4 separate regions of the Homo sapiens genome follow, and regions 1, 2 and 3 are each linked to region 4. Evidence: fine-mapped expression QTL. A gene starts in region 4. Each other region holds a variant in brackets. All regions are shown on one strand. Distances are between the middles of the regions.

Region 1 (8,334 bases), 27 kb before region 4:
TGTATGTTGAACCAGCCTTGCATCCCAGGGAAGAAGCTGACTTGATCATAGTGGATAAGCTTTTTATATGCTGCTGGATTCAGTTTGCCAGTATTTTATTGAGGATTTTCACATCAGTGTTCATCAGGGATATTGGCCTGAAATTTTTTTTGTGTATCTCTGCCAGGTTTTGATAGCAGGATGATGCTGACCTCATAAAATGAGTTAGAGAGAAGTCCCTCTTTTTCTATTGTTTGGAAGAGTTTCAGAAGGAATGGTACCAGCTCCAATTTCTACCTCTGGTAGAATAAGGCAGGCCTGGTGGTAACAAAATCCCTCAGCATTTGCTTGTCTGTAAAGGATTTTATTTCTCCTTTGCTTATGAAGTTTAGTTTGGCTGGATATGAAATTCTGGGTTGAAAATTCTTTTCTTTAGTAATGTTGAATATTGGCCCCCACTCTCTTCTGGCTTGTAGAGTTTCTGCAGAGAGATCAGCTGTTAGTCTGATGGTCTTCCCTTTGTAGGTAACCTGACCTTTCTTTCTGGGTGCCTTTAACATGTTTTCCTTCGTTTCAACTTTGGAGAATCTGATGATTATGTGTCTTGGGTTGCTCTTCTCAAGGACTATCTTAGTGGTGTTCTCTGTATTTCCTGAATTTGAATGTTGGCCTGTTTGCTAGGTTGGGGAACTTCACCTGGATAATATCCTGAAGTGTGTTTTCCAACTTGGTTCCATTCTCTCCGTCACTTTCAGGTAAACCAATCAAATCATACGTTTGGTATTCTCACGTAGTCCCATATTTCTTGGAGGCTTTGTTTGTTCCTTTTCATTCTTTTTTTCTCTAACCTTGCCTTCATAGCTTATTTCAGTAAAGCAGTCTTCAGTCTCTGATATCCTCTCTTCTGCTTGATCCATTCAGCTATTGATACTTGTGTATGCTTCACGAAGTTCTCATGCTGTGTTTTTCAGCTCCATCAGGTCATTTATGTTCTTCTCTAAACTGCTTATTCTTGTTAGCAGTTCCTGTAACCTTTTATTAAGGCTCTTAGCTTCCTTGCATTGGGTTAGAACATGCTCCTTTAGCTCAGACAAGTTTGTTTTTACCCACCTTCTGAAGCCTATTTCTGTCAATTCATCAATCTCATTCTCCTTCCAGTCTTGTGCCCATGCTGGACAGGAGTTGTGATCATTTGGAGAAGAGGCATCCTGGTTTTTGGAATTTTCAGCATTTTTGCACTGGTTTTTCCTCATCTTCATGGATTTATCTACCTTTGATTTTTGAGGATGATAATCTTTGGGTGGGTTTTTTGTGTGGGTGTCTTTTTTGTTGATGTTGATGTTGTTGCTTTCTGTTTGTTAGTTTTTCTTCTAATAGCCAGGAACCTTTTTCTTCAGGTCTGCTGCAGTTTGCTGGGGGTCTACTCCAGACCCTGTTACACCTGGTATCACCAGTGGAGGCTGCAGAACAGCAAAGATTGCTGCCTGCTCCTTCCTCTGGAATCTTCATCCCAGGGGGGCACTGGCCTGATGCCAGCCAGAGCTGTCCTGTATGAGGTATGTGTCAACCCCTGTTGGGAAGTCTCTCCCAGTCAGGGGGCATGGGGGTCAGGGACCCACTTGAGGAGGCAGTTTGTCCCTTAGGAGAGCTGGTGCACTGTGCTGGGAGAATCCTCCTTGTCAGGATCAGCTGCTCTCTTCAGTGCCGGCAGGCAGGAAAGATTAAATTTGCTGAAGCTGTGCCCACAGCAGTCCTTTCCTCCAGGTGCTGTGTCCCAAGGAGATGGACATTTTTTCTGTAAGCTCCTTACTGGGGCTGCTGCCTTTCCTTCAGAGATGCCCTCCCCCGTTAAGAGGAATCTAGAGAAACAGTCTGGCCACAGCCTCTTTGCTGCCCTGTGGTGAATTCTGCTCAGTCCAAACCTCCCAGCCTCCTTAGCACTGTCAGGGGAAAACCGCCTACTAAAGCCTCAGTAATGGCAGACGCCCCTTCCCCCACTCCAAGCTTGATGGTCCCAGGTCAACTTCAGATTGCTGTGTTGGCAGTGAGAATTTCAAGCCGGTGGTTCTTAGCTTGCTGGCCTCTGTGGGAGTGGGACCCACTGAGCAAGACCACTGGGCTCCCTGGCTTCAGCCCCCTTTCCAGGGGAGTGAACAGTTCTGTCTCACTGGGGTTCCAGGTGCCACTGGGGTACAAAAAGAAGAAACTCCTGCAGCTAGCTTAGTGTCTGCCCAAACAGCCACGCCGTTTTGTGCTTGAAACCTAGGGCCCTTGTGGTGTTGGCACAAGAGGGAATCTCCTGATCTGTGGATTGCAAAAACCGCGGGAAAAGTGTAGTAACCTGGCTGGGTAGCACAGTCCCTCACGCTTCTCTTGGCTCAAGGAGGGAGGTCCCCCAGCTCCATGCACTTCCTAGGTGAAGCAACGCCACACCTTGCTTCTACTCACTCTCCATAGGTTGTACCCACTGCCTAACCAGTCCCAGTGAGATAAACTGGGTACCTCAATTTATGCAGAAATAACCTGCCTTCTGCATTGGTCTTGCTGGTAGGTGCAGACCAGAGCATTTCCTATTCAGCCATCTTGGCCCCTCACCAATGGATAAGATTTTCTTTTTAAAAGTTAAAATGTAACTTAAAACCCAAATCACAAAACAATTAATATAGTTAACAGTGACTTTCTATGTAATAGCATGTACATCTTGTACACTGGACCAAAAATTACACTTCTAATATAGCTAAACAAATAAGATGCAAAATAAATCGCTTGAAAAACTGTAGACAAAATGTACAAGCAAAACAAGGTGGCTTATATTTACTAAATGAAGTAGAAATTTAAGGTAGAAGAAAGTTGAGAAGAGACATAAGGAAGGGGGTTAAAGCTGTAGTGGTTTGTCATTGGTTGTGGCAGGTGATGGCACAGAGGAGTTAGGTGGTGGAGGGTCAATTTCAGGATCTGATAAGATTCTCCATCATGTTGATGTTGCTATATCCGTTTCTCAGGGAATGAGGTTTGATGCTTTTGGATGAAGAAAGTTGCTAAATAGAGCTTTGCTCTTTGCTGATGCTCCTCTTGTTTACTTTCATACACGTCTTTCTATGGTTCCAAAAAGACATTGGGCCATTTTTGAAAGAAAGGCTTTTATCATATTGCCACCATGGTCAAGGACATTATTTTTGCATCTGCATTGCCATAAATTCTTTGACGTCAGCTGCATTTGGTGGTTTGGTTAGCTACTCTTTGGGTTCTTTTTAATCAATAATCTCTTCTGCAAATTGACATTGCACATCCAGCTGCACAAATTTGGTAGTTCGTTATTTATTTATTTATTTATTTATTTTGAGACGGAGTCTCGTTCTGTCTCCCAGGCTGGAGTGCAGTGGTGTGACCTCAGCTCACTGCAAGCTCGGCCTCCCGGGTTCAAGCAATTCTCCTGTCTCAGCCTCCTGAGTAGCTGGGACTACAGGCGTGTGCCACCACACCTGGCTAATTTTTTGTATTTTTAGTAGAGATGGGGTTTCACCGTGTTAGCCAGGATGGTCTTGATCTCCTGACCTCATGATCTGCCTGCCTCAGCCTCCCAAAGTGCTGGGATTACAGGCGTGAGCCACTGCACACAGACAAAATTTGGTAGTTCTTTAGTCTGAGATTTCAAAACCTTCCAAGATATTTTTATCTGTTTCTGCAAAGAGAGCTTCCTTTGGAAGGGTGGATATATTTACTGTGGTGTCAAACATCTATTTATAAAAACTTTTGAGGTTAGTGGCCAGGAGCAGTGGCTCACTCCTTTAATCCCAGCACTTTGGGAGGCCAAGGTGGGCGGATCGCCTGAAGTCAAGAGTTCGAGACCAGCCTGACCAACATGGAGAAACCCCATCTCTACTAAAAATACAAAATTAGCTGGACGTGATGGCACATGCCTGTAATCCCAGCTACTTGGGAGGCTGAGGCAGGAGAATCACTTGAACCCAGTAGGCGGAGGTTGCGGTGAGCCAAGACTGTGCCATTGCTCTCCAGCCTGGGCAACAAGATTGAAACTCTGTCCCCCAAAAACAAACAAACAAACAAACAAACAAACAAACAAACCACCTTTTGAAGTTAGTTTTGTTTGTGAGCTTGGTTTCTTTCCGTTTGTGACCCTTTGCTGCCTCACTTAGTACTACTAACATCCAAGAAGCATATTACCTAAATTGTCTCTATTCACACTGTTCGAAATGTCTACATGTAGTTCTAACATGAATTTCAATGGTATGTGGGATGTAATTTGAGAATTTTCTCAGAATATGTTTTGTTTAAACTGCTGAACTGAGTTTTGTAGAGGCAAATTAACTTTTTCACTTCTAAACTTTGTTTGAAAAATGATTTTTTCTTGTTTTTCTTCTTTTACTTTTTATTTATTT[A/T]TTTTTTGAGACAAGGTCTCACTCTGTCACCCAGGCTGGAGTGCAGTGGCGAGATCTTGGTTCACTGCAACCTCCACTTCCTGGGCTCAAGTGATCCTCCCATTTTGGTCTCCCAAGTAGCTGGGACTACAGGTGTGTGCCACCATGCCTAGCTAATTTTTGTATTTTTTGTAGAGATGGTGTTTTGCTGCCTCTGTCTCCCAAAGTGCTGGGATTACAGGTGTAAGCCTCTGGGCCCGTTCTATTTTTTTATTTTTTGTGGATACACGGTAGGTGTATACATTTATGCATACATTTATGGGGTACATGAGATATTTTGGTACAGGCATGCAATAGTCTAATAACTATATCAAGGAAAATTGGGCATTCATCACCGCAAGCATTCATCCTTTTTGTTACAAATAATCCAACTATCATCTTTTAGTTAGTTTAAAATATACAATTAAATTATTATTGACTATAGTCACCCTGCTGTGCTATCAAATATTAGGTCTTATTCATTCTTTCTAACTATTTTTTTTTACCATTAAGCATCCACACCTCATTCCCAACCCCCTACCCCCGCTGACCCCCACAGCCACTACACTCTTTCCAGCCTCTGGGTAACTGCCACTCTATCCTGTATCCTTGACATTGGTCTGAGCAAAAATTTCGTGGGTAATGCCCTAATAGCATAGGCAACAAAAGCAAAAATGGTCAAATGTGATCATATTAAGTTAAAAAGCTTCTGCACAACAAATGAAAAACCAACAAAGTGAAGAGACAACCCATATAATGGCAGAAAATATTTGCAAACTACCCATCTGAAATATGTTGTAGTAAGAGATACCCGTGTTCCACGAAGTGTTTGAATTAAAAACCAAAATGCTTTATATCAAGATAGGCTAACTGGAGAATGATTTTGTGGAATATGCATCAGTTATTCACAAATCAATGCTAATAAATGTTCAAACATTTGAATATTTTTTAGATAAATATGAAATAAAAAGAAATTAATCATATGAATATATGTGTAATCATTAAATAAACTGAGCCACTTATCAAAATTCTACTCTTCTGTAAAAGGGAAAACTCCCTGCCTTATTTTAGGAAGTTAGTATAACCTTGACACCAAAATGGCATATGAATACAATGAGGAAGAAAAATTTTAAAATAATCTTATTAACAAACATAAGTAAACTAAACATAAGTAAAATTCCTAAGTAAAATATTGGCAAACTAAATTCACTACTGTATATAATAAATAACATGATCCATTAGAGTTTGTCTCAAGATTATAAGAATAATTTACCATTATAAAAAAATCTATTAATCCAGTCTATCATTGTTGGACATTTGGGTTGGTTCCAAGTCTTTGCTATTGTGAATAATGCCACAATAAACATACGTGTGCATGTGTCTTTATAGAAGCATGATTTAGAGTCCTTTGGGTATATAGCCAGTAATGGGATGGCTGTGTCAAATGGATTAAGAAAATGTGGCACATATACACCATGGAATACTATGCAGCCATAAAAAACGATGAGTTCATGTCCTTTGTAGGGACATGGATGAAATTGGAAATCATCATTCTCAGTAAACTATCGCAAGAACAAAAAAACAAACACCACATATTCTCACTCATAGGTGGGAATTGAACAATGAGAACACATAGACACAGGAAGGGGAACATCACACTCTGGGGACTGTTGTGGGGTGGGAGGAGGGGGAGGGATAGCATTGGGAGATATACCTAATGCTAGATGACAAGTTAGTGGGTGCAGCGCACCAGCATGGCACATGTATACATATGTAACTAACCTGCACATTGTGCACATGTACCCTAAAACTCAAAGTATAATAATAATAAATAAATAAATTAAATAAATAAATAAATAAATAAATAAAAAATCTATTAATGCAGGCACCTATTAACAGGTAAATGGATCAAAAAATCATATAATTATTTCAATATATCTAGACAAAGCATTCAACAACCTATTCATATTGACACTCTTAGGAAGCTAGGGATAGAAAGTAATTTCTTTAACCTGATAAAGTGTTATCTACAGAAAACCTGCTTGCTCCTCAAAATTGTAAAGGCTTCAAAACAATGATCATCTGAGAAACTGCCACTGTCTGGAGGAGTCTAAAAAGAAAGGAAGTCTAAATGTAACATGGTATCCTGGATAGGATTTCAGAACAGAAAAAAATTAGGTAAAAATTAAGGAAATCTAAATAAAGTATGGACTTTCCTTAATAATTATGTATTAGTATTGTTTCATTAATTGTGACCAATGTATCATACTAACAAAAAAATTAACAATAGGGGAAACTGCATGTAGGATATACAGGAACTCTCTAGACTATCTCTTCACAACTTCTTTGTAAATCCAATCTAGATGAACCCTTGTCTCTTGTAAGTGTTTTACACTTAAACTCTATTTTTGTCTGAGATTAGTATGACCACTCTAGTTCCTTTTTGGTTACTATTTGCAATAATATCTTTTTCCATCTTTTCAATTCCAACCTATGTGTGTTCCTAGGTCTAACATGAGTCCCTGAGAGACAGCATGTAGTGGGATCATGGTTTTTTTAATTAATGTGTTTAGTCTTTTTACCTATCTATAGCATTTTATTGGGGAATTTGATCCATTTATATTTAAAGTAATTATGGACAGGGAAGGACTGACTTTTGCCATTTGTTATTTGTTTTCTGTGTCATATAGCTTCCTTTGTCCCTTTCCTCCATTACTACCTTCCCTTGTGTTTAGTTGACTTTTTATGGTGACACTTTTTTATTACCATCTCATTTCCTTTCATGTAGATTCTATAAATATTTTCTGTGTGATTACCATAAAGATTATATATAATATCCTAAAGTTATAAAATCTATTTTGAATTGATACCAACTTAACTTCAATTTCATAAAAAACATTTACTTCTTTAGAGCTCTATCCCTTCCTCCTAACTCCATATTATTGTCCCAAATTAGATCTTTATATATGCACCCACTAACATAGACTTGTAATTGTTTTATGCAGTTATGTTTTAGATATTGTAGAAAATACAGAGTTTATAAATAAAATTACAATAATTCTGATTTTTATATTTTATTATGTGTTTCCTTTTACTGAAGATCTTTGTATCTTCATAAAGCTTTGAATAAGAGAGTTTGGTAAGGTTTATGGGTACAGATCAATATAATAATAACGGTTAACAATTTTTTTTTTTTGAGATAGGGTCTCTCTCTGTAGCCCAGGTTGGAGTGCAGTGGTGTGATCACAGCTCACTGTAGCCTTGGTCTCCTGGGTTCAAGTGATTCTCCCACCTCAGCCTCCTGAGTCATGGGAACACAGGCCCATGCCACAAGGCCTGGATAATTTTTGTATTCTTTGTAGAGACGGGGTTTTGCCATGTTGCCCAGGCTAGTATCAAACTCCTGGGCTCAAGTGATCTGCCTGCATTGGCCTCCCAAAGTGCTGGGATGACAAGCATGAGCCACCATGCCTGGCCAATAGTTAAAAATTTTGTTTGCATTTATTATGTACCAGACATTGTGCTAAGTATGTTAAGTGTAAAATCTATTAATATTCACATCAATCATGTGAGAGGACTACAGTAACGACCCTGTTTTACAGAGTTGGAAACTGAGACCCAGAATTTACTAATCTGTTCAAGTAAGTGGTGGAACTAGGATTTGAATTCCATCAATCTGGATCCAGAGACAATGCTCTCAATCACTATGTTGCACTGTTTCTCAAAGTTAATACCTGCTCCCTGCATCAGCTACTTTAAAATGTCATTAAAAGACATAGATCCCATTCACGATGTCAAAAATAAGTAAATAAATTCAACCTTATTGGAGGTCATTTTAGATGGTCTAAATAAATGGGGGGATACAGTCACTCACGTTTGGGAAGTATCAAGCTAAGTATCTAAAACATGGAAGCTATCCCCAGATTAATCCAGCAAT
Region 2 (8,334 bases), 33 kb after region 4:
CTTGTGATTAGGAATTGATAATGTGAGAAAATATTTATGTGTATACAATATATGTATTATATATATGTATTATATATCCTGCTTTACCTACAATTTAACCTAAATGAAATTTAACAATTTCATTTTCCATTTTATAAAAGAAAACTCATTAGAGACAGCGTTTTTATGACCACATCATATTCTATCATACAATATGACTTTTTAATCCATTCCTGTAACAACACTTGGATTGCTTCCAAATGATACTACAATCAATGTATTGTGAATGTTTCACTTGTTCACAAATCTTTTCCTCCATATCTAATTGCTCTTTTAAACTACTAAATTAAAAGATAAAAAAATTTAAGTTTATTAAAGCATATTGCCAAGTTGTTTTCAGAAAGGTTTTACTAATTCACACTCTCACTAACACTTGCATAAGAGAACAAATCTTACAAGTGTAGTTTTGAAACATCTTTGCTGATTTGAAAATTATTATTTCAGTGTTGTTTTATGAAACTTTAAGTTGTAAATTCTGCTCCTGCTTTGATAATCAGAGCTGTCACTTATCTGTTATTTCATATTTCCAAATGCACAGCGTGGTAGGGAAGAGGTACAGAGATTTTAACATATTTTCATTTTTAAAAAATCTATTATATTACTTATTCTAGGAAAAGAGAAGGATTATGTTGCCTGTAATTTCTTAATATGAATTAATAAGCCCAATAATGTATAATAACTCAATAATGTGCAAGTTGTCCATTTAATGTACATGCAAATTATCAGCATATGTTTTCTATCAGGTTGTAAATCTCCTATTGCAAGCTTTTCTTTCAAAGTTAGGTAGTTTAATCTGAGACTAAAGGTAACAGGCCAGGCGCAGTGGCTCATGTCTATAATCCCAGCACTTTGGGAGGCCGAGGCGGGTTGATCACTTGAGGTCAGGAGTTTGAGGCTGGCCTGACCAATATAGTGAAACCCCATCTCTACTAAAAATACAAAAATTAGCCAGGCATGGTGGCAGCCACCTGTAATCCCAGCTTGGGAGGCTGAGGCAGGAGAATCTCATGAACCCGGGAGGCAGAGGTTGCAATGAGCCAAGATCGCGCCCCTGCACTGCAGCATGGGCGACAGAGTGAGACTCCATCTCAAAAAATAAATAAATAAATAGATAAAATTTTTCCTTTAGACCCAATCAATTGTTACCTGTAGAAGAGTGACTGTCAGAGTTCCCTAATGTATACTTATATACACACTCATCTACGTGCACACGTGTACCCACACCATGTCTCCCTCTCCTTTAGTACATCACCACTCTACGTGGTGATTGGATCTAAGCAATATTTATCCTCAAATCTACATTAAATAAGGATTTATGAGGGCTCTGCGCACATAAAAATATTATTTGATAAAGTATAAAATGGAAGACTGTGCTGAAAGATAACCAATAGTCACATGTTTTCATGGTAATTAATACAAAGTTTAACTGAACAGAATAATTGAGTCTTTAAAAAAAAAAGCAGCAGAGAAGATACCAAAGAGATTATAAATCAGCATTATCGAGAAGGAAAGTTGGCATTGTGTATCAAAAGCCATAAAAATATTCATCCCCCTTGGCCCAGCAATTCCACTGCCAGGAATGTATCCTAAGAAAATAATCACAGTTTTGCAAAGAGATTTATGGGGAAAATGTTCAGTGCATCAATGTTTATAAAAGAAAATTTGGAAGTAACCTAAAAATCTAGTAACAGGAAAATATCAGGTTGAAACACTGAAATCGGTGATACTCAACTACTTTAAACTAGAAAAATAGCTATTAAAAGTAGTTCAACCTAAATATATACACTAAATATGTTAAATTTAATTTAGGGGCCAGATACATCAATAAAGTGACATGATGTTTGGTATGTGGTATTGATAGAAGAATATTTAATGATATGAAAAAATCAAAATACAGTAATTAGATTTTTTTTTTTTAAGACAGAGTCTTGCTCTCTCACCCAGGCTGGAGTGCAGTGACACAATCTCGGCTCACTGCAAGCTCCGCCTCCCAGGTTCACGCCATTCTCCTGCCTCAGTCTCCCAAGTAGCTGGGACTACAGGCGCCAGCCACCACGCCTGGCTAATTTTTTGTATTTTTAGTAAAGACGGGGTTTCACCCTGTTAGCCAGGATGGTCTCGATCTCTTGACCTCATAATCTGCCCGCCTTGGCCTCCCAAAGTGCTGGGATTACAGGCTTGAGCCATCGCGCCCAGCCAGTAATTAGATTTTTTAAAAATCATATAACAAAACAGTGAATAGAACATGTCCTTTTAATGACTTGGTGGATACGAGTTAATATCTACATATTGACATGATTAACATGCATTATCTCTGGCTGTGGGACTGTAGATTACTTTATATTCATCTTCGTGCCTTTCTTTGTTTTCCGAATAGAGATGGCAATTCTGTATTATTTTTGCAATCATAAAAATAAACTAAATACTACATACACACACCTCAGTAAGGAGAATTGGGCCGGGTGTGGTGGCTTACGCCTGTAATCCCAGCACTTTGGAAGTCCGAGATGGGCGGATCACCTGAGCCCAGGAGTTCGAGAGCAGCCTGACCAATATGATGAAGCTCCGTCTCTACTAAAAATACACAAATTAGCTGAGTGTGGTGGCATGCACCTGTAATCCCAGCTACTCGGGAGGTTGAGACAGGAGAATCGCTTGAACCCAGAAGGCAGAGGTTGCACTGAGCCGAGATCGCGTCATTGCACTCCAGCCTGGGCAACAAGAGTGAAACTCCTTCTCAAAAAAAAAAAAAGAGAGAGAGAGAGAATTGGCAGAGTATTCCTGCACCATTATAGCTCTGGAGAAAAAAAAGACTTTGCTTCCTCTCACGACCTTCTACAACTCTTGTCATGGGTCCATTTTCATTTGCAATTGGGCAGATAATCAGGGACATAAAGCAATTTATTGTCCACCCTTAAATAAAGTTTAAACAGTTGACTGGGAGGTATGCCTTTAGCAAAGAGCATTCCTTGTGTTTCCCAGATGGCTGAAATGCCTTTCACAGAGGAAACATTTAAAAAGGACAGGCATTTTCCCTGAGAGGTAAAATCCTCATTAGGGTTAGGGGAAGGGCAAGGAGAAAGCATGCAAAGGCTGAGTGGTCAAGGCCAGCTTGGGAGCTGCACTTGGGGCAGGCAGTGATGGCTGAAGAAGGAAGAGGTTGGTCCCAATACAGACCTACTCAAGTTCACAGCTGAGAAATAGGAAACCAGAAAATAACAAGAACAAAGCAGTAGCTTTCTAACACCTTTTCATGTTGGACATGAGTGGTGAATTAGAGAAAGTTCTTGATATTCCCCTGAGCATCTATGTTCAGAACCAACTGTTGAGAAATCTATTTGAACTGGATTTCATAACCTACTAGAGAGACCAAAAACATGTTGAAACATGAGAGAAAATGATTAAAGATATAAATAAATCCAGACTTGTTTCAATACATGTGGCATCTCAAAGTACAAATTTTGTTACTTCATACTTTGGCTAGTTATTTTTTTTGTTTTTTTTAACAAAATAGTCCTTTGCCAGATACCTCCAGATAAATGGCTGGGTGTACACAGGATTCCAGAATTCCTATTCAATGATAATGGAAGGATGCCTCCCTAGGGTTTTATAAAACAAAGGGTCGGGAAAAGAACACATGACATTATTAGTAAAATATACAGATTTTCTAGCTAGTTCATGTGCACAGGCATTGTAAAATACGTGGGTGTCGTTTTGATGATTGATTTCTCCACTCAGTAACTAGTCATAGCACAAACTCCAGAGCCAGGCTCTGGGCTTGTCTCCCAGCACTGTCACTTATTGTCTATGTGGCCTCAATCAAGTTACCTAACCGCTCTGTGCCTCAGTTTCTCTATCTAGAAAATGGGGTTAGTAACACTAACCCCCTTGCAGGATTATTGTGAAGACTAAATGAGTTAAATACGTAAAGCACTACAGCACCTGGCCATGGTAAATAATAGGAAGGTGTTGGCTCCCCGTCTCTCAGTATTCCTTTGTCTTCCACATCAGCAGTTATCAATCTTTCCCCCAGTTCATCACATTGAGAAATATAATATGTTTTCTTCAGTAACAGGAGCTTACTATGGCAGTGATTTTTAAGAGGAAGGTATGGAAACTTCCCTGGATGGGGTGAGGGTTGGAGGGTGGGGAATTAGACTCTTGTGGATGCCTTCACCTTGTAAATGCTCCCCAGATGACTTTGACATCCACTTCTTTTTTTTTTTTTTTTTTTTGAAATGGAGTCCCTTTCTGTCACCTAGGCTGGAGTGAAGTGGCACGATCTCGGCTCACTGCAACCTCCGCCTCCCGGGTTCAAGCAATTCTCCTGCCTCAGCCTCCCAAGTACTGGGACTACAGGCACACGCCACCACATCCAGCTAATTTTTTGTATTTTTAGTAGAGATGAGGTTTCACTATGTTGACCAGGCTAGTATCGAACTCCTGACCTTGGATGATCCATCTGCCTCAGCCTCCCAAAGTGCTGAGATTACAGGCATGGGCCACCACGCCCCGCCATCCACCCCATTTTCATGAGAGTCATGAGGTAGAATAGTCCATCCAGAGATAATGTTAGCATCAATTATTCTAATCTGTGCTAACTTAACAATTTCTTTGATGACCGGTTGGTCCCTGACAGAACGATCCTCAGATCCTGCCCACCCCTTTCTACCCACTGTGTCAAATTATCATCATTATAGGTTTGCTTCTCTTTTTACAGTAAGAGAATATGCACACGCCATGCATCACCCAAACTACTCCAACTCCTCAGAGAATCATGCCATCTCCCTGAGC[T/C]GGAAGCAGCTGTCCACAATGGGGACACAAGTTATGCAACTATCCTGTGATTTGAAGTGAGGACCAATTTATGAGGGTGTTTTTCATGAAGTGTTTTGTTTTGCTGTGGGGAAACCCAAAGAGGCCATCTCTCTGCAGAGTTCTCTCTTCTAAATATTGCAGTCAGACTTTGAAAACTGCCAGCATGTGGGACGCAAACTAAAAAACTGCCTTTCCTTGGGGCCACAGCCAGGGCTCTACTCTGACTTTCATGGGCCTGACACCTTTGCTTTGCAGGCCCCTTCCTCTATTAAAAAAAAAAATTAGGTAATATTTTATGACTATGTTGGCATAAAAATGAATGTTTATATATTAAAACATTTTATTTAACTTAAGAGGTTAGGAGTTTTTATTTTAAAATAAAGTAAACCCCCCAGCATTTTGGGAGGCTGAGGCGAGTGGATCACGAGGTCAAGAGATCGAGACCATCCTGGCCAACAATGGTGAAATCCTGTCTCTACGAAAAATACAAAACTTAGCCGGGCATGGTGGCACACGCCTGTAGTCCCAGCTACTTGGGAGGCTGAGGCAGGAGAACTGCTTGAACCTGGGAGGCGGAGGTTGCAGTGAGCCGAGATCTCGCCTGGGCAACAAGAGCAAAACTCAGTCTCAAAAAAAAAATTATTATTTTCATTTTGCTTTTGTTTGTTTGTTTTTGAGACGGAGTCTCATTCTGTCACCCAGGCTGGAGTGCAGTGGTGTGATCTCGGCTCACTGCAACTTCCACCTCCTGGGTTGCAGTGATACTCCTGCTTCAGCCTCCTGAGTAGCTGGGATTATAGGTGTGCACCACCACGCCCAACTACTTTTTGTATTTTTAGTAGAGATGAGGGTTTCACCATGTTGGCCAGCTGCTCTTGAACTCCTGACCTCAGGTGATCCACCCACCTCGGCCTCCCAAAGTGCTGGGATTATAGGTGTGAGCCACCACGCCCAGCAACAATTATTATTTTCATGCGATAGCATCTATTGGCCTCCTCCTATAGCGACCAATGCAAAGAAGAGCAAATAAATCACTGCTTTGTTCACCTGTTAGCCTCAGAGCATAGCCAAATTCCTAGCACATATTAGGCAATCAAAAATATTTCTTGAATGAATAATCAAACAAATGAATAAATAGTTCCTAACATGTTTTAAAATAAGTTATTAACCTTGTGGCTAGCTGCAACATTTCCCTCTTTCCTGTATCTTGTTTTTAATTAATAGGTTATTTTTCCTAACAGTAAATGTATTATGTTGTTGAAATTTTGGATACGACACAGAAAAGTGCAAAGGAGAAAATATAAAACCACACATACCCTAAGGCCCAGAAGCAACCTCTGGTAATGTATTGGTATCCTTCCAGAGCTCTTTTCAATGCATATATAGTACATCCTCCCATATTATAAATCTATGGCTATTAGTCTATAGTCATGTGCTGTGTAACAACGTTTCCATCAATGACAGACTGCATCTAGGAAGGTGGTCCCATAAGATTATAATGGAGCTGAACATTTTCTGTTACCTAGTGGCATCATAGTTGTAGTATGTTGTAGCACAACACATTACTTGCATGCCCTTAGTGATGGTGGTGTAAACAAATCTATTGCACTGTTAGTCATATAAAAGCATAGCACATACAATTATGTACAGCATACAATGCTTGATAGTAATAAGTGACTTTGTTATTGTGTTTATTATACTATACCTTTTATTTTTATTTTAGAGTGTTCTCTTTCTACTTATGTATTTTTTAAAAAGTTAACTGTAAAACATCCTCAGGCGTGTCCTTCAGGAGGTATTCCAGAAGGTGTTGTTGTCATAGGAGGTGACAGCTCCATGCACGTTACTGCCCGCCTCTCCCTGCGAGGTAAGACATAGAGATGGAAGACAGTGATACTGGTGATCATGCATGTTACTGCCCCCGTCTCCCTGCGAGGTAAGACATAGAGATGGAAGACAGTGATATTGATGATCCTGACCCTGTGTAGACCTGGGCTAGTATGTGTGTTTGTGTCTTTGTTTTTAATGAAAAGTTTAAAAACTAAAAATAAAAATTGTTAAAAATAGAGAAAAACGTATAGACTAAGAATATAAAGAAAGAAAATATGTTTGTACAGTTAGACAATGTGTTTTAGACTAAGTGTTATTACAAAGGAATCACAAAGTTTAAAAAAAATTAAAATATTTTTAAACTAAAAATGTTACAGGAAGCTAAGTTTAATTTATTATTGAAGAAAGAAAAAATGTGGCCGGGCACAATGGCTCACTTCTGTAATCCCAGAGCTGTGGGAGGCTGAGGCGGGTGGATCACGAGGTCACGAGATCGAGACCAGCCTGGCCGACATGATGAAACCCCCGTCCCTACCAAAAATATAAAAAATTAGCCGGGCGTGGTAGCGCGCACCTGTAATCCCAGCTACTCAGGAGGCTGAGGCAGGAGAATTGCTTGAGCCCAGGAGGTGGAGGTTGCAGTGAGCCGAGATTGTGCCACTGCACTCCAGCCTGGGCAACAAAACAAGACTCTGTCTCAAAAAAAAAAAAGTTTAATAGATTTAGTGTAGCCTAAGTGTACAGTGTTTATAACGTCTACAGTAGTGTAGAGCAATGTCCTAAGGCCTTCACATTCACTCACTCAATCATTGACTCTCCCACAGCAACTTCTAGTTCTGCAAGCTCCATATACAAGCATAGCATTTTTATCTTTTGTATCATATTTTTACTGTAACTTAACATTGTATTACAATAGCCAGCAGTATTTAGTACAGTAACATGCTGTACAGGTTTGTGGCCTAGGAGCAATAAACTATAGCCTGGGTCTGGAAGGCTATAACATCTAGGTTTGTGTAAGCACAATCCGATATTTACACAATGACAACATCACCTAATGACACATTTCTCAGAACACATCCCCATCATTGTTAAGCGGCACATGATTGTATTTTAATATAGTCTCTGAAAGTGGCAGTGCTCTGGGAACACTTATATATAAGGTCGCCAATATCTGGTATGAATGAGTGAGTTTGTCAAAGTGTTTTTACCATTGACTGAAAAGATCTACAGAACCTGAAACTCAAGAGTCATCAGGGGCAAATGGAAAACATTTTTGAGAAGGAGGAAATGAAGCTCAACTTTACCCATTTTAAAATTGAGGCTGGGCGCAGTGGCTCACGCCTGTAATCTCAGCACTTTGGAAGGCCAAGGCTGGTGGATCACCTGAGGTCAGGAGTTCCAGACCAGTCTGGCCAACATGGTGAAATCCCATGTCTATAAAAATACAAAAATTAGCCGGGCGTGGTGGCGAACATCTGTAATCCCAGCTACTTGGAAGGCTGAATCACTTGAACCTGGAAGGCGGAAGTTGCAGTGAGCCGAGATCGCACCACTGCACTACAGCCTGGGCGACAAGAGCAAAACTCTATCTCAAAAAATAATAAAAAATAAAATAAAATAAATGGAGCCACAGCTGGCCTTGATGATGAA
Region 3 (8,334 bases), 52 kb after region 4:
ACAGTTTGAGGTCATCTGTGCCTTTGGTATTCCAAACTCTAAAATAGTTCACAAATTGTTAGCCGCACTGCCTACATTGGCTGCAGGGTGAATCCATTAGCCATGGAGACTGACACACTGCAAGGGGCTGGATTTATGCATTCCCTCTTCTCCTCTTGCTGTAAGTAAACAATGTACCAGTTGAGCTTGATATGCATATTGTCTGTTCTCAGAGACCTCAAGTCATGCACTGGTCCTTCCCTGGACAGCATTTATTTGACTTTTAACCTTGGCCACATTCATGTTATAGTTTACCCTGCACACAGCCTGACCATCCAGTGGAGGGTGAAACATATTTGGTACAGTGAGCAGGGTCTCTGAGAAGACACCTTTTCATGGCATAGTGGAAGTGAGACCCCATCCAGGGTGGTGCTGGCTCCTGGAGATATTGAAGGTGATAAAGCTCTCAATAAGGCCTAGATACATTTTGATCTGCCAACAGAGGTAAATGGGATAGTGAGAATAGCCCTGAGAACCTTGATGAATTAACTAGAGGGATGTGGGCAAAAATTAAGGAGGTGGGAAAGTCCAAAACCAAACAATCTCCTGGTTACTGAGTCGCTGCCTTTGTGCTGCCAGCCTGGGGCCACCTTGGTCTAAACCACCCCCTGACCAGTTACCCCCAGTCTTTACCTAGCAGTACATTAATGACAGCATTGCCAATGTTGCCCAAGTTAAAATAAGAAGTTTCTCTGAGATTGAGCTGGATAAGAAGAAACAGCAATATGACCAAAAGCCCAGCGAATTCATACCTTCCTGGACTCTGCACTTGATTGATGAGGGAGCAACCCAGACTCTCTTCTCCTGTAATGAGTGAAGCCTGGACCAGATGAGAGAGGATGGGATTAATTGTTATAATGGATCTTTGCCCACATTGAATAGGCCAACTCCTCAGGATTGGACAGGTGACAAACCAATCTGGTGACAAACCAATCTGCTTGAAACCTGGTGATCTTCCTAAATTGAAACAATTCTAGAAAGACTTTCAAGCACCCTTTGACTTGGTGAGAGCCCCAGGAGCCTCCTCTATGGCTCTATCAATCCAGAAGGGGATTTAGATGATGTACCACTGCTTGACAGCAAATACACGACTTAATAAAATGGGGGCATCCAACAGGTGGGCTCCATTAACCCTCTTAGTCTCCCTAGGAATGACTACGGGGGACATCGTTGGAAAACTGTACCATAATGTGCCCATGTGGGGCGCTGCCAAAAACACAGCCACAGTGGTGAGTGGTGGCTACTCCCTCATCACATAGCAAATGGAGCTCCAAACCACCATCAGGAGCCCACTAAAAGATAAAAGGAGCCACAGAAAAGGAAGGCCTCAGGCTGCCCTGGACCCAAGGGAAGAGTCGTGTGGCTATGGCTGTTAAGCATGGTGGCTGCTTAAGCATGGTGGCTAAGGAAGAGACAGATGGGATCCCTATTGAACAACTGAGGGATCAGTATGAGCTGAGGGAGGAAACTGAAATCTTTTGTTTTTATTTTAAATTTTTATTTTATTTTTTTCTCTTTTTCTTTGTTTTTTATATTTTTTTATTTTAATTGTTGTGGGTACATAGTAGGCGTACATATTTATGGGGTATGTGGGATGTTTTGATATAGGCATGCAATGCATAATAATCTCATCATGAAAGATGTGGTACCCATCCCCTCAAGCATTTATGGATCTTGAGACTTTTTTGAAGGTTATCACGTTCCTCTTTTTTTCTTCTTCAACTTTTATTTTAAGTTCAGGGGTACATGTGCAGGATGTGCAGGTTTGTCACATAGGTAAACGTGTGCCATGGTGGTTTGCCGCACAGATCGACCCATTATCTAGGTATTAAGCCCAGCATCCATTAGCTATTCTCCCTGATGCCCTCCCTTCCCTACCCCGACAGGCCCCATTGTGTGTTGTTCCCTGCCATGTGTCCATGTATTCACATTGTTCAGCTCCTACTTATAAGTGAGTACAGGTGGTGTTTGGCTTTCTGTTCCTGCATTAGTTTGCTGAGAATAACGGTTTCCAGCTCCATTCATGTCCCTGCAAAGGACATGATCCTATTCCTTTTTATGGCTGCATAGTATTCCATGATGTATATGCACCATAGTTTCTTTAACTAGTCTATCATTGATGGGCATTTGTGTTGAATCTATGTCTTTGCTATTGTGAATAGTGTTGCAATAAACATACATGTGCATATATCTTTATAATATTAATAGAATTATTTATATTCCTTTGGGTATATACCCAATAATGGGATTGCTGGGTCAAATGGTATTTTTGCCTCTAGATCTTTGAAGAATCACCACATTTTTCAAAATGGTTGAACGAATTTACACTCCTACCAACAGTGTAAAAGCATTCCTTTTTCTCTGCAACCTTGCCAAATCTGTTGTTTCTTGATTTTTTAATAATCGCCATTCTGACTGGCATGAGATGGTATTTCATTGTCATTTTGCTTTGCATTTCTGTAATGAATCCTGAGATTTTTTTTTTTTTGAGACGGAGTCTCGCTCTGTCACCCAGGCTGGAGTGCAGTGGCACAATCTTGGCTCACTGCAAGCTCTGCCTCCTGGGTTCATGCCATTCTCCTGCCTCAGCCTCCTGAGTTGCTAGGGCTACAGATGCCTGCCACCACGCCTGGCTAATTTTTTGTATTTTTATTAAAGACAGGGTTTCACCGTGTTAGCCAGGATGGTCTCGATCTCCTGACCTCGTGATCCGCCCGCCTCGGCCTGAAGTGGGAGCTGAACAATGCGAACACATGGACACATGGCAGGGAACAACACACACTGGGGCCTGTCAGGGGATGGGGAAGGGAGGGCATCAGGGAGAATAGCTAATGGATGCTGGGCTTAATACCTAGGTGATGGGTTGATCTGTGCAGCAGATCCCAAAGTTCTGGGATTACAGGCATGAGCCACTAGCGCCCAGCCCAAATCCTGAGATCTTAATGTTAAACGATTGGTTCAAGCAATTGAACCGCAAGAGGAATGCTTGTTAGACTGAGTTGATTTTGCTGACTGGTTCTCTGCCCTGAGTGTTCCCACCAACACTTGAAGGGTTCAAAACAGCAGAGGCATTGGTGGGTGCCAGAGAGAAACTACTTGAAAAGGAACCACTTCCACCATTATATCCTGAGCTAACATCTTTGGAGAAGACAGACTAAAGATGGGGCCAAGATTTGGGGCCACCAGTGGGAACTGAACGCCTGTGCCCTAGTTTGAGAGGCAGGGGAAAAGGGTACTACACAAACTATTATGAGTCTCTTGAACACTGGGGACACTGGGGTCACTGTCATTTCCAGTTGTGGGCAAGAATGACAGGTGACACTGCGAGATTCAAAACTAACACTGTCACATGGAAAGTTGCCATGCACTTAATTGTGGATTCCTCTAGCACCTTTACCATGGCCAGGGATTGTAGTTCCCACTGCTAAATGTACAATACTTATATAAAGTTTGGCCTCCTGTACACAAGGCACCCATCGTGATTCTGGGGTTGCACCCCACCAAATGGTTTCATTTGGATGAGCGTCATGGGATACGTCCTGTTCATGTGTTGTTTTCCTGACCTTCTCTACATCTTCCTCTAGTTCTCTGAGCATCTTTAAGACCGTTGTTTTTATGTCTGGTAGATTCACCAGCCATCAGGTCTTTTCAAGGAAGTTTCTGTTGATTTCTTTTTTTCCTTTGAATGGTCCATGCTTTACTGCTTCTTTGTATACTGATACAGTTTGGCTCTGTGTCTCCACCCAAATCTCATCTTGTAGCTCCCATAATTCCCATGTGTTATGAGAGGGACCCGATGGGAGATGACTGAATCAACAGGGGTGGGTCTTTCCTGTGCTGTTCTTTTGACAGTGAATGGGACTCACAAGATCTCATGGTTTTAAAAACGGGAGTTTCCCTGCACAAGTTATTTTTTTGCCTGCTGCCTTCCACGTAAGATGTGACTTGCTCCACCTTGCCTTCCGCCATGATCGTAAGGCCTCCCCAGCCATTTGGAACTGTAAGTCTAAGAAGCCTCTTTCTTTCGTAAATTGCTGAATCTCAGGTATGTCTTTATCAACAGCATGAAAATGGACCAATACATATACCTTGTGATTTTTTTGTTCAAAACTGAACATTTGGGTCTAGTAATGTGATAACTTTAAAAATCAGATTCTCTCCCTTCCCAGGACTTGCCGAGTTTTGTTTTGGGGTTGGTTTTTGTGGGGTGGTTGTAGGCTATCTGTGTGCTGAGCATTAGCCTGAGGTGCAAACGTAAGGTCTTCTCAAGTGTTTTCTGAGTCTGTACCCCTTTCCCCGGGTTTATGTGGTGACTTAATTTCAAATGTCCTAGTCCTTAATGTCTGACCCTCCAGAAAAGAAAGGAGAAAAATGAAAGTGGGGAAAAAGCACTTGCCTTT[C/T]AAATTTCCTGGAAGTCACTAGAGGGTGGGGGAAGTGGGGTCGGTGGGGGAGGGGGGCAACAATAAGAGAACATGCAACAGTGGTTTCCTTTTTCTGTACTTCTATGTTTAGAAGCAACAATTTAGAGCACAGATCCCCAATAATTAGAGTACAGCATTCCTTTGTCCACACTGGGCAAAGCTATGTGTAAGCTACTCCAGGATCATCTGCACAGCTGCCTGCCAAGCCGCTGAGGGTAAGGGATGGCTACAGCTGACAATGACTGAAACTAACTGCAATTTACAACCTGATATTGTTTGGCTCTGTGTCCCCAGACAAATCGAATCTTGAATTATAATCCCTATTTGTGTTGAGGGAGGAACATGTAATTCCCACATGTCAAGGGAGGGAGGTGAATGGATCATGGGGGTGGTTTCCCCCATGCTGTTCTCATGATAATGAGTGAGTTCTTATGACATCTGCTGGTTTTAAAAGTGGCAGTTTTTTCCTGTGTGCTCTCTCTCCTGCTTCCTTGTGAAGAAGGTGGCTGTTTCCCCTTCTGCCATAATTGTAAGCTTCCTGAGGCCTCCCCAGCCATGTGGAACAGTGATTCAATTAAACCCCTTTCCTTTATACATTACCCAGTCTCAGGTACTTCTTTATAGCAGTGTGAAAACAGACTAATACAGTTAATTGGTACCAAGGTAGTGGGGTACTGCTACAAAAATACAAAAAAATGTGGAAGCAACTTTGGAACTGGGTAATGGTTAGAGATTGGAACAATTTGGAGGGCTCAGAAGAAGACAGGAAGATGTGGGAAAGTTTGGAACTTCCTAGAGACTTGTTGAATGGTTTTGACCAAAATGCTGATAATGATATGGATGGACAATGAAGTCCAGGCTGAGGTGGTCTCAGATGGAGATTAATAACTTATTGAGAAATGGAGAAAAGTCACTCTTGCTATGCTTTAGCAAAGAGACTGGTGACATTTTGCCCCTGCCCTAGATTTCTGTGGAACTTTGAACTTGAGAGAGATGACCTGAAATTGGAACTTACGTTTAAAAGGGAAGCAGAGCATAAAAGTTTGGAAAAATTGCAGCCTGACCATGCAGTAGAAAAGAAAAACCCATTTTCTGGGGAGAAATTCAAACTGGCTGCAAAAATTAGCATAAGTAATGAGGATCCCAATGTTAATCACAAAGACAATGGGGAAAATATCTCCAGAGCCTGTCAGAGATCTTGGCGGCAGCTCCTCCCATCACAGGCCTGGAGGCCTAGGAGGTTAAAAATGATTTATTGGGCCAGGCCCAGGCCCCCACTGCTGTGTGCAGCTTTGGGACTTGGTATGATGCATCCCAGCCACTTTAGCTCCAGCCATAGCTAAAAGGAGCCAATGTACAGCTCAGGCTGTGGCTTCAGAGGGTACAAGCCCCAGACCTTGGCAGCTTCCCTGTAGTGTTAGGCCTGTGGGTACATGGTAGTCAAGAATTGAGGTTTGGGAATGTCTGCCTAGATTTCAAAGGAGGTATAAAAATGCCTGGATGGCCAGGCAGAGGTCTGCTACAGGGGCAGAGCCCTCATGGAAAACCTCTGCTAGGGCAGTGTGGAAGGGAAATATGGGGTAGGAGCCCCCACACAGAGTCCCCACTGGGGCACTGCCTAGGGGAGCTGTGAGAAGAGGGTCACTGTTCTCCAGACCCAAGAATGGTAGATTCACCTCCTTCTTGCACCGTGCACCTAAAAAAGCCATAGGCACTCAATGCCAGCCTGTGAAGAAGCTACTCAAGGCCATGGGAGCCCACTCTTTGCATCAGTGTGTCCTGGGTGTGAGACATGGAGTCAAAAAAGATCATTTTGGAGCTTTAAGATTTAAGGACTGCCTTGCTGGATTTCAGACTTGCATGGGGCCTGTCGCCCCTTTGTTTTGGTTAATTTCTCCCATTTGGAATGGGAGCATTTACCCAAGGCCTGTCCTCCCATTGTATTTAGGAAGTAACTAACTTGCTTTCAATTTTACAGGCTTATAGGTGGAAGAGACTTGCCTTGTCTCAGATGAGACTTTGGACTGTGGACTTTTGAGTTAATGCTGAAATGAGTTAAGACTTTGAGGGACTGTTGGGAAGGCATGATCGGTTTTGAAATGTGAAAAGACATGAGATTTGGGAGGGGCCAGAGGTGGAATGATATGGTTTGGCTCTGTGTCCCCACCAAATCTCATCTCAAACTGTAATCCCCACACCTCGAGGGAAGCACCTGTAATCATCACATGTCAAGGGAGGGAGGTGATTGGATCATGGGGGCAGTTTCTCCCATGCTGTTCTCATGATAGTGAGTTCTCGCAAGATCTGATGGTTTTATAAGTGTTTGGAAGTTTTTCCTTCACTCTTCTCTCTCTTGCCACCATGTGAAGAAGGTCCTCGCTTCCCCTTTGTCTTCTACCATGATTATAAGTTTCCTGAGGCCTCCCCACCCATGTGGAATTGTGTGTCAATTAAACCTCTTTCCTTCATAAATCATCCAGTCTCAGGTATTTCTTCATAACAGCGTAAGAACAAACTAATACACAACCTAAGCCTTCCTCTGGAAATTGTGAACCTTAGATTACTCCAGAGTTCCAAGATAGTTAAGTCATATTCTGCCACTGCATTAGTTGGGTAGGTCAGGAGAGAGATTCCTGGTTCTTCCTACTCTGCCATTTTCCCAGAATCTGCTTATTGTCTCTCTTATTCTGTTGGGCCTGCTGTAACAAAATACTATAAACTGTGTAGCTAACAAATAACAGAAATTCACAAATTTGTATTATTGCAAATAAGTGAAAATTACCTTGCAACCACATACCATACTTATCTGAAGAACTTAAAAACTCTCTCAAGTATAGAAATGCAATACATTACAACAATCTTCTTCCACTTTGAGTTACTTCTCATAATGAAACCACAGAGAAACAAAAGTGGCGCCTTAAAAGAAACTGTGAAAAGAAACTTTAAGCTTCTGTTTGTTCCTGGAATAGATTTGAATCAAATTTAGGAAGGAAGCTCTTCCTCTTGAAAATTAACTGCATGAAAACAAATCAGAAGAAACAAAAGTCAGTTATATAATGTTGGCAGACAAGGAATTTAACCATGGAGAGGACAGTCATGTAGTTCATTTTATGTTATACTAAAATGATACTTTTTTCCAAAGTAGGGTAAAGATTTTCAAAGTTACATTCAATTTGTGACATATTGACTTCCTTTCAAAAATTGCCTTATGAATTACCATATGAAATTTTTCCAGAATCTTTGAGGGACTTAACCTAAGATTTTCCCCTCAGTATACAACAGTGACTAGATTTTTTCTGCCTGTACAGCACTTCAACTACATGGAACAGGTTAAGTCTTGTTTGATAATTCGATTCGTAAAGGTACAAAATGATCATGAACATGCCTGATCACCATATCTGAAACTCACCCTAATCCTGTAAAATGAATACTACTTTCCTTCCTATTTCAGCCTCATCCCAAGCAAAAGAAAAAAAATTTTGAGGCACTACTTATTTTTTATTATGCATAAAAATTTACACATAATTATACATGTGACAAATGTAAAACAGCATGCATTCACCAATATAATATCGGAATAATTTCACTTCCCTAAATATCCTCCATGTTCTGCCTATTTATCCGTCCCTCCCCTCTAGCCCCTGGCATGTATTATAATAAATGTTTGCTTACTACCAGATCATCTCAGGGAGCACCAGTGACATGCAAATATAATTTTGGAAACAATGGACTAAAGTTGTTTAAGCCATGCACAAGTGGCTGCAGTTTATCAATCGAGGTAGCAGCTTGAATTTTTCTGAGAAAGAAGATTATTGTTTCTAAGTATAGCTTAAGTGGCAGAATGTGAGTCTAGAGATGCTGATACCCATATGTT
Region 4 (8,035 bases):
CCATCTCACTCCAGTTAGAATGGTGGTCATTAAAAAGTCAGGAAACAACAGATGCTGGAAGGATGTGGAGAAATAGGAATGCTTTTACACTGTTGGTGGGAGTATAAATTAGTTCAACCAGTGTGGAAGACAGTGTGGCAATTCCTCAAGGAACCAGAAATACCATTTGACTCAGCAATCCCATTACTGGGTATATACCCAAAGGATTATAAATCATTCTACTATAAAGACACATGCACACATATGTTTATTCCAGCACCATTTACAATAGCAAAGACTTGGAACCAACCCAAATGCTCATCAGTGATAGACTGGATAAAGAAAATGTGGCACATATACACCATGGAATACTATGCAGCCATTAAAAAGAATGAATTCATGTCCTTTGCAGAGACATGGATGAAGCTGGAAGCCATCATTCTCAGCAAACTAACACAGGAACAGAAAACCAAACACTGCATGTTCTCACTCATAAGTGGGAGTTGAACAGTGAGAGCACATGGACACAGGGAGGGCAACACACACACTGGGGCCTGTCGGGGGTGGGAGGCTAGGGGAGGGAGAGCATTAGAACAAATCCTAATGCCTGTGGGGCTTACAACCTAGATGATGGGTTGATGGGTGCAGCAAACCACCATGGCACATGTATACCTATGTAACAAACCTGCACGTTCTGTACACGTATCCCAGAACTTAAAGTAAAATAAAAAAATTTAAAAATAAAGAAATCTGTTTGCCAGAATTCACAAAGAGCAATAGACCTCATGTGAGTTATGAATCTGAACTTCATCCTGCTGTGTGCTATTGGATAAAGACTCTAAGAGCTACATTACAGATTTTTTCGACAGGAAGTATCACAGTAACAAGGCCCTATTTAAAGGCTGTTGCTACTGCTGTGGAACAGATTTACCCATTTGTGTTTGAAAGCAGGAAAGAAATTTTATCATTCACCACTTAATTGGTTAGAATCTCTTACTGTGCACCTTTTAAAACCTGCTGCACATTGGACTCAAAAGGAAAACTGAACCAACGGTAATTGAGGAAATAGACTCTTTTATTTATTCATGGCTACAGTGTAAGCTCCAGTCCCTTTGGATTTTATTCCAAACCTTGTTATAATATAAAAAAGGAAGTTTACAAGACATGTCATTGCTGCTTTTACAAAAGGACATTCTATTTATTTTCGCAGGAATTCTCATGTCCCCATAAGCAGAGCTGTCACAGTGTGCACTACCTTAGGTTGTTTTATTGTTGTCATTGTTATTTTTTTCCATTTTGAGCTAATGTGTTTTATCTGTGAATAGTCTTTTACATTTTTGTATGCTGAAAATGGGCACCAAAGAACCTGTAAAAATTATCTTTTTCAATTGAATGTGCACAAATAAAAGTTTGGAAAAGGAAAACAAAAGAACTACAAAGCATTTAGCAGAAAGCTTTCATGAAGAGTTGCAATGGCTGATATTATAAAATACACATACTTTTAAAAACAAAAAATCCCTCAGGAGTTTTGTTGCCCACATCTGCTAGTAACTAGTGAAGCCAGTTGTGTAACTGCACTTAGTTTACACAATTTCTTGAACTTACAGTTTTGCAAAGACCTCAGTTGTTATGTGATTTAGCAGTTAGAGTGTACCCACAGAGAAAGGAAGCAGGAAAGTCTTCAGAGAGGGGCAAGCTGACATGCAAAGAAGCAGGTAACCAGACATTTGCTAAGCGCCTCGAAGACTGAGTGCACTGCACTGCACTGACCTGCTTCAGCTCGTTGGTAAAGTACACGTAAGTTACAGCCACACAGAGAGACTGCAGGAGCACTGTGAAGATCACGATCAGCACGCAGGTCTGTCCCAGGCTGGGTCCCCCCTGGACCTCCATCATAGCCATGATCCTGTCAGAGTCTGACTGCTGTAAGTCAGCCAGGCAGCCGGTCACTGAAGCCCTTCCTTCTCTATTCTTTTATAGTCAGTGAGGAAATGAAAGCGAATGAGTTGTTTTTCTGGGTTCTGTGGCCTTGGCCCCACCCACATCTATTGAACCTGCAACTGTCCCTCCCCTTTCCTACTGCCCAGGGACAGCTCTTGTCTCAAAGTAGTCGTTGGAAAGGAGGGAAACTGAAAGAAGCTCCTCTCCTTGCCCTCAGGATCCATGCACCCCTTATCTGCACTCACCTCAAGCCCATTTCTCTCTTCTCTTTCTTGCTCTCCTTTTGATAATGTCCTCAGCCAAAGAGGGGAGGGATTTTCTTTGCTTTTCCCTAACATATCCTCATTCTACCACAGAGCTCTAAGCCTCATGGCCTGGCTGTCATAGGCACAAGGCCTGTTTTCTAAATTATAAGATAATTTTTATGACCTGAAACTTCCATATGTGGTTTTTCTCATGCTACTGTGAGGGTGGGAAGAGGGCAGGGTGGGAGTGGATAAAGGAAAATAGAAATACTGTCTCATAGCAATGGTCTTGCTACATAATTCCATCTTGAATGTCAGAATCTAAATATTGACGACTTCTTCCTCTTTGCAAACCTTCAGACACAAATTCTAATCTCCTTCTCAGATCTCCATCCCTACCAAGACAACATGCCTGTGTGTTAGGCTGGACAGGTAGGAAGTAGTTGACACACTCAGAAAGGCAAAGGAAAAAAACATGTGGATGTTTTCCAAAATATTAACCCCATCACAATGTCTCGCTGTCACTATCCTTTTACAGATTAGGAAAAGAAGTTACAGGGAGTTAATTACCCTCAGATTCAGGACCCAGCCCCAAATCTCCCCACTATCAGATGTCATAAGCTGGCCCAGCTGTATGTTGTCTCTATATCTTATTCAGCATTTCTTTCTTTCCTTTTCTTCCTTTCTTTCTTTCTTTCTTTTCTTTTCTATTCTTTCCTTCTTTCCTTCTTTCTTTCTTTCTTTCTTTCTTTCTTTCTTTCTTTCTTTCTTTCTTTCTTTCTCTCTTTCATGTATTTATTTATTTTTTTGACAGAATCTCACTTTATCGCCCAGGCTGGAGTGCAGTGGTGCAATGGCACAATCTCGGCCCACTACAACCTCCACCTCCCAGATTCAAGCAATTCTCCTGCCTCAGCCTCCCAAGTAGCTGGGATTACAGGTGCATGCCACCATGCCCAGCTAATTTTTTTGTATTTTTAGTAGAGATGGGGTTTTACCATGTAGGCCAGGCTGGTCTCGAACTCCTGACCTCAAGTGATCCTCTTGCTTCAACCTCCCAACGTGCTGGGATTACAGGCATGAACCACTGCATGGGGCCATTGTTTAGTTATTCCATTCTTGACCCACTGAGTCAGAGTTTCTGGCAGTGGACTTAGGAACCTACATTTTTCAGCAAGTACTCCAAGAGATCCTTTGAAACCTAAAGTTTGGGACCCTAGATCTACAGTTACATTCCTGAGTTCATTCAGGCACCGCTGGTCACCATCACTTCCTGCCCTTGCCTTCTATCTGTAAATGAGTCTATATTTAAGAAAATATTTTCAAATTTTAAATTTGCCTCTGTCAAATTGCCAAATTTTTAAATGCAAATTCCTTTCAGACACAGACAAATTGGCAAGGTAGCATTTTTCCTACTAAAAGTTTTAGACATTATGTGAACCTAACACTATTTGAACACACTTACACTCTAAGTCCTAGACTGAATGAGTTTTTTAAATCAGGTGAAAGATGAGTAGGATAACCGTAATGCACAAGACACACAGCCGGGCAGGGCAGAAACAAGAAACGAGAGATGGCAGAGAAACACAGGGGAGAAGACCAAAGAAAACCAACTTAACACCTTTGTTATAATCCAGAAATAGAAACATTACGGCTATGATGTACGTGAAAGGCATGAAACGAAGGAATGGGAAACGTGCAGGAAGTCAACATCTCTATCTTATAAGCACGTAAGAAAGTCTAGAGTGTGGAAATAAGGAGGCTTATCTCGGGGTCAGGTCAAGAGATGGGGTGATTTGAGGAGTTACAAGAGTCGGCTGGGCGCGGTGGCTCACGCCTGTAATCTCAGCACTTTAGGAGGCCGAGGCGGGCGGATCATGAGGTCAAGAGATCGAGACCATCCTGGCTAACACGGTGAAACTCCATCTCTACTAAAAATACAAAAAATTATTAGGGCATGGTGGTGGGTGCCTGTAGTCCCAGCTACTTGGGAGGCTGAGGCAGGAGAATGGTGTGAACCCGGGAGGCAGAGCTTGCAGTGACCAGAGATCGTGCCACTGAACTCCAGCCTGGGTGACAGAGCAAGACTCCAGCTCAAAAAAAAAAAAAAAAAAAGTCAAGAGGTCTGGCTACCTCTATCTTTGAGCCTCCTAACGTATTAAATATGAAGATATTATATATACATATTTGATATAGAGAAATCTTAATCTTTTTGTTATAACAATGTTTAAATAATATAGAGCTAAAGCCATTATTATTATTATTACTAGCATGGATCTGCTGACTGGCATCCATACATTAACCATAACCTTTAATCAGCAATTCAGTTTCTTTAAACTGGAGTGAGAATTTGTTATTTTATTTTATTTATTTATTTTGAGACAGAGTCTCACTCTGTTACCCAGGCTGGAGTGCAGTGGTACAATCTCAGCTCACTGCAACCTCCACCTCCTGGGTTCAAGTGGTCCTCCTGCCTTAGCCTCCCGAGTAGCTGGGACTACAGGTGCCCGCCACCACACCTGGCTAATTTTTTTTTTTTTGTATTTTTAGTAGAGTCAGGGTTTCACCATGTTGGCCAGGCTGGTCTCAAACTCCTGACCTCAGGTGATCCACCTGCCTTGGCCTCCCAAAATGCTGGGATTACAGGCGTGAGCCACCATACCCGGCTGAGAACCTTTTAAAAATACTTTTTTTTTTTTTTGAGACAGAGTCTCACTTTGTTGCCCAGGCTGGAGTGCAGTGGTGGGATCTCGGCTTACTGCAACTTCCGCCTCCCAGGTTCAAGAGATTCTCGTGTCTCAGCCTCCTGAGTAGCTGGGATTACAGCTGTGCACCACCATGCCTGGCTAATGTTTTGTAGTTTTAGTAGAGACGGGGTTTCACCATGTTGGTCAGGCTGGTCTTGAACTCCTGACCTCAAGTGATCCACCCTCCTCAGCCTCCCAAAGTGCTGAGATTACAGGCTTGATTACACACTGCACCCGGCCTGTTTTATAATTTTTAAGTAATTTTTAATGAAGTCCTTACAAAGCATTAAATTCAGCATTCCAAGAAACAACTCATATTTTATTGGCTTCCATGATATTTATATGAACTATGTAATTACAACTGGCATAATCAGTTCTGAGAATAATTTAATTCTTGTTAGATATATAGATGGAAACAGAAGAATAGCCTAAGTTCTTCATTCCCTGTGTGGAACATACTGACTGAAGGTTAGAGAACTTCCAGTGTATCTTGTTTCCTTTTTTTTTTTTTTTTTTTGAGACGGAATCTCACTCTGTCCCCCAGGCTGGAGTGCAGTGGCGCCGTATCCGCTCACTGCAACCTCCACCTCCTGGGTTCAAGCGATTCTCCTGCCTCAGCCTCCTGAGTAGCTGGGATTACAGGTGCATGCCACCACACCCAGATAATTTTTTGTATTTTTACTAGAGATGGGCTTTTACCTTGTTAGCCAGGATGGCCTCAATATTCTGACCTCGTGATCTGCCCACCTCGGCCTCCCAAAGTGCTGGGATTACCGGCGTGAGCCACCACGCCCAGCCTCTTGTTTGTTTCTATACTTATTTGTTTATTTTATGGCTACCCCATTTATAAGAATGTAGGTTGCATGAGAGTGAAACTTTGCCACATGCATTGCTACCAATGCCTTGCACACTGTGAGCACGATCTATGCTGGTTGGATGAATGAGCATTTCATAGTCTCCAGAATCTTAAGGCTCTTTACCTCAGGAGCAGCAGTGTGTTCTGCAGAATGGTCACAGACACAGAATTGTTAAGTCTTCCCCACCAAGCCTTACAAGAAATCTATTACTTGTTTCCTAGTGCATGACATCCCTAGACTAAGTGCCAAATATTTCATTCTGTGAATAAAGATGTTAGTTAAAATGTAAATGTTAAAGTAAGTTTAAGTAACCACACTGGGAGGCTTGGATTGTTTTCCTAATCAGACCAAGGGACAAAGGAGGTGAAGAGAAGACTGTACATTCCTCAAGCAGAGATGCAGGAAAAGGTTTCGGGACTATAAGGCTGGGTATTTCTCTAAAAGATCTATACTTCCAGCACTTAATTTTGCCAATAGTTGATCCTTGTTTGCTTTTAACATGAAGGGAAAAACAGAAGCTGTTGCTGCCACTGGTGCCCTGTGAAGATTTTTGAAGATTTTTAAAGATTTTAAAACTTTTCTTCTGAAGTAAGGATTTAATTATAAGAGCTGTTAGGCTGGGCGCGTGCGGTGGCTCACGGACATGGTGGTGCGTGCCTGTAATTCCAGCTACTCCGGAGGCTGAGGCAGGAGAATCACTTCAGGCTCGGAGGAGGAGGTTGCAGTGAGCTGAGATCATGCACTGCACCTCAGCCTGGGCAAGAGCAGGACACGTAGACTCAAAAAAATAAAAAGTAAAATAAAAATAAAAATGAAGTCTTGTCAGGTCTTGGACACACTGTCTTTGAGTGAAGAAATGAATTCTATTATTATTGTTTTTTAAATTTTTTTTTGAGATGGAATGTCGCTTTGTCACCAGGCTGGAGTGCAGTGGCATGATCTCTGCTCACTTCAACCTCCGCCTCCTGGGTTCAAGCAATTCTCCCGCCTCAGCCTCCCAAGTAGCTGGGACTATAGGCACGTGCCACCACACCCAGCTAATTTTTGTATTTTTAGTAGAGACGGGGTTTTGCCATGTTGGCCAGGCTGGTCTCGAACTCCTGACCTCAGATGATCTACCCGTCTCGGCCTCCCAACGTGTTGAGATTACAGGCATGAGCCACCACGCCCAGCCAAATCCTATTATTTTTATAATCAGACAATGGTAGAATCATAAAATGACTGGACTGTTAGACATCTTAAAGACCCCCAGGAAAATTCTATTGCTTGGTTGATAAGGAAACTAAAGCACCAAAAGTTAAGTGAGTTAGTCGTGGTTGTTGAATTACAAAATGGCAGAATGACTAGAATTCACATCTATTTGCTTCCAGGTAAATTGCTCTAAACTTTGGCTATTTTATCCACACTATATTGGAGCAAAAACAATTCTGTATTCCTCAAATCATTTATTCCTCCTCCCCCCATCACACTAGATATGACATTGGATATGTGTTTGGACACTTCTGCCCGAGCATCCATACTCCACCACTCAATAGCTGCTCATTCAGGCTAGTAATCTCATATGTGTTGGGACAACTGAGCTTCCAGAATGAAGAGGGCAAACTGCTGCCAGGTGAGTCCTCTTAAGCAATACAAAGTATCTGTCCACTTTTTACAAACTCTTTGGAGATAACAGCTTTTTTTTTTTTTTTTGAGACAGAGTTTCACTCTGTCTCCCAGGCTGGAATGCAATGATGTGATCTCGGCTCACTGCAATCTCTGCCTCCTGGGTTCAAGTGATTCTCCTGCCTCAGTCTCCCGAGTAGCTGGGATTATAGGTGCCTGCCACCACATCTGGCTAATTTTTGTACTTTTAGTAGAGACGGGGTTTCGCCATGTTAGCCAGGCTGGTCTCGAACTCCTGACCTCAGGTGACCCACCCGCCTCAGCCTCCCGAAGTGCTGGGATTACAGGCACGAGCCACCACACCCAGCATCTTCTGAGAAGACTTCAATAGCTATTAAAACAATTATATCAGGCCATGTGGAGGTTGCAGTGAGCTGAGATCATGCCACTGCACTCCAGCCTAGGTGACAGAGCAAGACTCCGTCTCAAAAAAAAACAAAAACAAACCAAAAAAACAGCAATTATACCAACAGTAGTCACTACCTAAGTGTTTCTTTCTTTATGTTGGAGGATGGGGTGGGGTATAGGTTAATATGGTAGATCTTATTATTTTCTCCAATTCTTCATCCATCTCTCTATTCATACCTTTTGCCATGTGGCT

What was found. PIP is the estimated chance that this variant, and not a neighbour inherited with it, causes the effect.
Region 1: its variant is fine-mapped to the expression of TNFSF10 in whole blood (INTERVAL, PIP above 0.99).
Region 2: its variant is fine-mapped to the expression of TNFSF10 in blood mononuclear cells (TOPMed, PIP above 0.99). The same link has a PIP of 0.9 or more in monocytes and whole blood.
Region 3: its variant is fine-mapped to the expression of TNFSF10 in whole blood (TOPMed, PIP above 0.99). The same link has a PIP of 0.9 or more in blood mononuclear cells and monocytes.

Annotation. Positions count from the first base shown.
Region 1 is chr3:172,494,788-172,503,121 of GRCh38, forward strand. No RefSeq gene overlaps it. Among named protein-coding and RNA genes, the nearest start is that of TNFSF10, 24 kb to the right of the region's middle. The variant A/T (reference allele first, on the strand shown) is at 4,380.
Region 2 is chr3:172,554,356-172,562,689 of GRCh38, forward strand. It overlaps LINC02068 (long intergenic non-protein coding RNA 2068), which reads right to left. Exons shown (of 4, transcript NR_146714.1): 4 at 6,546-6,714. Among named protein-coding and RNA genes, the nearest start is that of TNFSF10, 35 kb to the left of the region's middle. The variant T/C (reference allele first, on the strand shown) is at 4,834.
Region 3 is chr3:172,573,482-172,581,815 of GRCh38, forward strand. It overlaps LINC02068 (long intergenic non-protein coding RNA 2068), which reads right to left. Exons shown (of 4, transcript NR_146714.1): 3 at 792-859. Among named protein-coding and RNA genes, the nearest start is that of LINC02068, 18 kb to the right of the region's middle. The variant C/T (reference allele first, on the strand shown) is at 4,440.
Region 4 is chr3:172,521,504-172,529,538 of GRCh38, forward strand. It overlaps TNFSF10 (TNF superfamily member 10), which reads right to left and starts at 1,927. Exons shown (of 5, transcript NM_003810.4): 1 at 1,750-1,927. The coding sequence starts at 1,881. It also overlaps the pseudogene TBPL1P1. RefSeq lists an enhancer at 1,859-1,908.